2 separate regions of the Homo sapiens genome follow, and region 2 is linked to region 1. The links come from fine-mapping of genetic effects on gene expression. A gene starts in region 1. The other region holds a variant in brackets. All regions are shown on one strand. Distances are between the middles of the regions.

Region 1 (2,919 bases):
AGTCATTTTCAAATATCTGTGTTTTAGAATCCAAGCCTACTGGAGAGGATGTGTTGTTAGAAAGTGGTACAGAAACCTGAGGAAAACAGTACCTCCCACAGATGCCAAGTTAAGAAAAAAATTCTTTGAAAAAAAGGTAGGTAAAGATCATTATGTTCTCCAGATATGGTCTCCGTGCGGGTGGTTCACTTGGGGTCAGGAAGGCTAACAGAGGTGGTAAAACTTTGAGACTTACTTCACTTTGAGGGCTTTTTAAAAATGGGTGAGATGCTGCTAAAAATCCTGTTTAACTTTAGTTGGCTTTCCAACCTAGATGTTCAAATACTTCTAGACTTTCTTTTCTAGTTAAATCATAAAATTAGGTTAAATCAAAGCAACTTCTGTTTGGCCATTTTGTGCTAATTGTTTAAATAAACTTATCTCTTCAGACACAAGACTGGAAACCAGCTTAATTTTTCCCATCTCCTGGGCTATATGTAAATGAAGACATCTGCTGCACATCTCATAGTAATGAAAATAGAAGCTGCCTATAAAAATAAAGCCCCCACATGCTACCATTGTATTGAGTACCTCGTGGGGTCATCACAATGAGCTTTAGAGCTAACTTCCATGTCTACCCTTCCTCTTAACCACTATTTATGCTTTAGTTTTACTTTTGGGGGACTTATTTAACAATTTCCCATTCCTTGTCCCCATATGAAAAGGACAGTCCTACCCCATCAGCCTGTGGCTTCAGGCAAACAGCAGCAGCTCCGAGGCTGTCATATGAAAGCCATCACTTCTTCCTGGCAGTGTTGGCCTGAGAAGAGCTGTAGCATTTATAATGGCCCAGCACACAGTAGGTGCTGGAAATTCTGTATTTATTATCACTATTAACTCCTTTCCTAGAATATGGAGATGAGTTACTGTGTGTTCTGTTCCTGAGAGCAGTGTCTCTGATCTTCAGAGATCATTCGTCTCGGGTGTTCATTCTCAATTTGGTAAAGGACCGCCATGCACGATTGCGTCATCCTTCCTTTACATTCTTTCCAGTTTTTTATCTTCAGTCGTTGACAGTCAGTTGTGTTCTCTGGGCTACTCTTAGTAATTTCTAATATGTCATAGTAGGTTGTCTCTTAAATCAGAAGTGATTTTTTGTCACCTCTTATACAATTTTAATTACAGATTTGATAGTCATTTTACCTTATATATATAAATATTTTTCATGTGCACACATCATTTTATAAGAACTCTTGAAGATAAAGGCCCACTGAAAGTGTTGGTGGTCTCAGCCCATTGAACTGGACGAGAACTGGCCCAGGTTGCTGGAAACAAGTGAAGCAACCATTACAATGTGCCTTGTGTTATCTTGTAAAGTAGCCAGTGAAGGTTAAGTTTCAGCGTTCAGTGCTCAGGTGTTCAAATGCTGCAGCCTTCAGCTTCATGGAAAAAGGAAACGAAAAATAACAAAAAGCAAGTGACCAAGAGCAGTCGGGGCAGGGAGACCTGATCAAACAAGTTCCTCAGTTTCTAATTCAGTGTCTCCCACAGAGAGATGGAACTTTACAAGGCAGATTCATAGCTCTGTCCCACTGGACGTTGGGTCCGCTGCCCTGTGGCCATCCCACCTCCCCACAAATACTGTTTTTTGTTTTATCCTTGGTTCATCCCAACTGCTGCCTCCTCGTCCTGAGCCCTCATCGCTCGGAACGCCCCGCTCTGATCCCCGTGTCTGCTTTTCTGAGCACACTCTTGCCCGCCCCCGCATGTCCTGCCCGTTCCTACTGGTTCCCTCTGCCTTGCTTAAAATGTGCCAGTTTTTCAAAGCCTAGCTGAAGCTTTCTTCCAATTTCTTTGGTCTTCTCTAAACCTCTATTGTATGTTTAAACAACACCATCTAAGAGATCAAGAAGAACAGAAGTATGAATGCTATTCTAGCTTGTATATTACAAATGTGGTTTTTCCTTTGGGGCTTTTAAGATGATCTCAGATGATTTCAATAGCAAATTCACTTAAGCTGAATATCTGTGAAGAAACTGATAAGTAAAACTGATTTTTTATTTTTTGCAGGGGTGGTAGTTGAGAACAAACTGTATAAGTTGTTTTTTATTTTTATTTAGAGACAGGGTTTCGTTATATTGCCCAGGCTGGCCTCAAATTCCTGGGCTGAAGCGAACCTCCCACCTCAGCCTCCCAGTTAGCTGGGATTATAGGCAAGAGCCATAGGCTAGGGCAGTGGCTTTCAGACTTTTCCTCAACCACAATAAGAAATATCTTCTAAGCAATGTTGACAGAAAAACCAAACTCTGTAAAGTATTTTAAAGAAGTTGACTCTGACTGATACGAGTGACTGCAGGCCAGGAAACCCACTCTCAAGGAGTCCTGAGAAAGTGCACCCCGGGCGGTTGGATTACGGTTTGGTTTCATACATTTTAGGGAGGCAGGAGTTACAGGCAAAGACATCAGTCAGTACATGGAAGTTATACATTGGTTTGGCCAGAAAGGCGTGATATCTTGAAGTGGGGGTTTACAGATTGTAGGTGGATTCAGAGATTCTTTATTTGCAGTTGGTTAAAGGAGTAGGGCTCTATCTAAATACTGGAGTCAGCAGAAGGGAATCTCTAAGTTGAGGATGCTGCGCAGCAAGACTGATGGCCTGCGGCATGACTGTCCCTTGCCGGGCATGGCCTTAGGTCTTGTTTGTACTTTGGTTTCTTACTGCCTCAGACTGCCGTCAGCCTTATCACTTTTAAAGGAATACTGGTCACTTCAGCTTAAACTCCAGCAAGGAGTGGGCATAAGGGGCATCTCACCTTTCTTCCCATCGTGGCCAGAAATTCCATTGTTAAGGTTTTCCTAGGGCCCCCTTGGCCAAGAGGGGGTTCGTTCTGTTGCTGGGGGCCTTAGGATTTTTTTTTTTTTTTGAGACGGAGTCTCGCT
Region 2 (2,919 bases), 140 kb after region 1:
AAGAAAGTGGTTTCTTGAGATGGAATCTACCCTGGTGAAGATGCTGTGAACATTGTGGAAATGACAATAAAGGACTTAGAATATCATAAACTTAGTTGATAAAACAGAGGCAGGGTTTGAGAGGATGGACTTCAATTTTGAAAGAACTTCTACTGTGAGTAAAATGCTGTCAAACAGCATCACATGCTACACAGAAATCTTTTGTGAAAGGAAGAGTCAATCAATATGGCAAACTACACTGTTGTCTTATTTTAAGAAATTGCCACGGTCACGCAACCTTTAGCAAAATCAAGGCAAGACCTCCACCAGCAAAAAGATTACAGCTCACTAAAGGCTCAGATAATTGTTACCATTTTTTAGCAATAAAGGCATGTACACACATTGCTATTGCACACTTAATAAATGGCATTATAGTGTTAAGTATAATTTTTATATGCTCTGAGAAATCAAAAAATTTGTGTGATTCACTTTATTGCCACATTCGCTTCATCACAGTACACTGGAACCAACCCTGCAGTATCTCCAAGGTATGCCTGTCACTGTTAGGTATGTAACATAGTAGGCATTGTTCTGGATACGTTAAGATGCTATCTTTTTTTCTGAGACAGTGGTGTGATCATGGCTCACTGCAGCCTTGACTTCCCAGACTCAGGTGATCCTCCCGCCTCAGCCTACCAAGTAGCTGAGACTATAGGCACATGCCACCGTGCCAGGCTGATTTTTGTATTTTTTGTAGAGATGAGGTTTCACCATGTTGTCCAGTCTGGTCTCAAACTCCTGGGCTCAAGCGATCCACTCACCTCAGCCTCCCAAAGTGCTGGGATTACAGATGTGAGCCACTGCACTCAGCCAGCTACCACCTTAATATTTTATGAGGGAAGGTCCCCCGTTTTACAGACGGACTTCAGGTTCAGAAACGTGCCCTTGTCCCAGAGCAAGAAAAACTTAAGCTATTCCTTCTAATATGCTGTAATGTTTTTAGGCAACATAAATTCCACCATTTCCTAACCTTTTTTTTTTCAGATGGAGTCTCACTCTGTTGCCCAGGCTGGAGTGCAATGGCGCAATCTCGGCTCACCGCAATCTCCGCCTCCCGGGTTCAAGCGATTCTCCTGCCTCAGCCTCCTGAGTAGCTGGGATAACAGGCACGCGCCACTGCGCCAGGCTAATTTTTGTATTTTCAGTGGAGACGGAGTTTCACCATGTTGGCTGGGCTGCTCTTGAACCCCTGACCTCAGGTGATCCACTCGCTTCGGCCTTCCAAAGTGCTGGGATTACAGGCATGGGCCACCACGCCTGGCCCCTAAACTTCTTATATTCTTTAGAGATGCTTGCAAATGTATGATTACAAATCTCTAGATCAAAGGTCCATGAGGCATGAATATATTTCTACACCTCATTTTTTATTTCCCAATGCCTGCTACAGTGCTGAGTAATCAATAAAAATGAGTTCCATAAACAAACAATATTACAATCCATATAGCTAAATGTTAACAGGAAAAGACTCTCTCAGGAAAAAGGTCACAGGCTGAACTAAAGAAGTAGTCTCAGAATTAATTCTCAATTGTCAGTACAAAATGAACAAAATTATAACATATACAAATATAAGAAATATTAATTTTTAACAGCTTTATTGAACTACATAAAATAAGCTACACATGGAGTATATAATTTGATAAGTTTTGTCATGAGAATGCACCAATGACACCATCACCACAATTAAGCTAATGAACATAAACACATCCATCACCCCCAAATTTTCTCATATCCTTTTATAATCCCTGCCCCCTGCCACTCCCCACCTCCC[CCT/C]GATTCCCAGTCAGCCACTGACTCTGCACTTTAGAAAAGAACTCAGAAATAATGCCGCATGTCTACAACTATCTGATCTTTGACAAACCTGACAAAAACAAGAAATGGGGAAAGGATTCCCTATTTAATAAATGGTGCTGGGAGAACTGGCTAGTCATATGTAGAAAGCTGAAACTGGATCCCTTCCTTACACTTTATACAAAAATTAATTCAAGATGGATTAAAGACTTACATGTTAGACCTAAAACCATAAAAACCCTAGAAGAAACCCTAGGCATTACCATTCAGGACATAGGCATGGGCAAGGACTTCATGTCTAAAACACCAAAAGCAATGGCAACAAAAGCCAAAATTGACAAATGGGATCTAATTAAACTCAAGAGCTTCTGCACAGCAAAAGAAACCACCATCAGAGTGAACAGGCAACTTACAAAATGGGAGAAAATTTTTGCAACTTACTCATCTGACAAAGGGCTAATATCCAGAATCTACAATGAACTCAAACAAATTTACAGGAAAAAAACAAACAACCCCATCAAAAAGTGGGCGAAGGATATGAACAGACACTTCTCAAAAGAAGACATTTATGCAGCCAAAAAACACATGAAAAAATGCTCATCATCACTGGCCATCAGAGAAATGCAAATCAAAACCACAATGAGACACCATCTCACACCAGTTAGAATGGCGATCATTAAAAAGTCAGGAAACAACAGGTGCTGGAGAGGATGTGGAGAAATAGGAACACTTTTGCACTGTTGGTGGGACTGTCAACCCTTGTGGAAGTCAGTGTGGCGATTCCTCAAGGATCTAGAACTAGAAATGCCATTTGACCCAGCCATCCCATTACTAGGTATATACCCAAAGGATTATAAATCATGCTGCTATAAAGACACATGCACACGTATGTTTATTGTGGCACTATTCACAATAGAAAAGACTTGGAACCAACCCAAATATCCAACAATGATAGACTGGATTAAGAAAATGTGGCACATATACACCATGGAATACTATGCAGCCATAAAAAAGGATGAGTTCATGTCCTTTGTAGGGACATGGATGAAACTGGAACCCATCATTCTCAGCAAACTATCGCAAGGACAAAAA

Which allele goes with the higher level. Alleles are on the strand shown, and positions count from the first base shown. SD is a standard deviation of normalised expression in the study named.
With allele CCT in place of C in region 2, the expression in lymphoblastoid cells of the gene that starts at base 1,525 in region 1 is higher (moderate effect, 0.64 SD a copy in TwinsUK).

Evidence for each region. PIP is the estimated chance that this variant, and not a neighbour inherited with it, causes the effect.
Region 2: its variant is fine-mapped to the expression of RNF32-AS1 in lymphoblastoid cells (TwinsUK, PIP 0.95).

What each region holds. Positions count from the first base shown.
Region 1 is chr7:156,658,435-156,661,353 of GRCh38, forward strand. RNF32-AS1 (RNF32 antisense RNA 1) reads right to left here and starts at 1,525. Exons shown (of 3, transcript NR_189275.1): 1 at 1-1,525. RNF32 (ring finger protein 32) reads left to right here. Exons shown (of 9, transcript NM_030936.4): 7 at 28-136.
Region 2 is chr7:156,800,981-156,803,899 of GRCh38, forward strand. The region is part of intron 4 of LMBR1 (limb development membrane protein 1); the gene reads right to left. Among named protein-coding and RNA genes, the nearest start is that of LMBR1, 91 kb to the right of the region's middle. The variant CCT/C (reference allele first, on the strand shown) is at 1,808.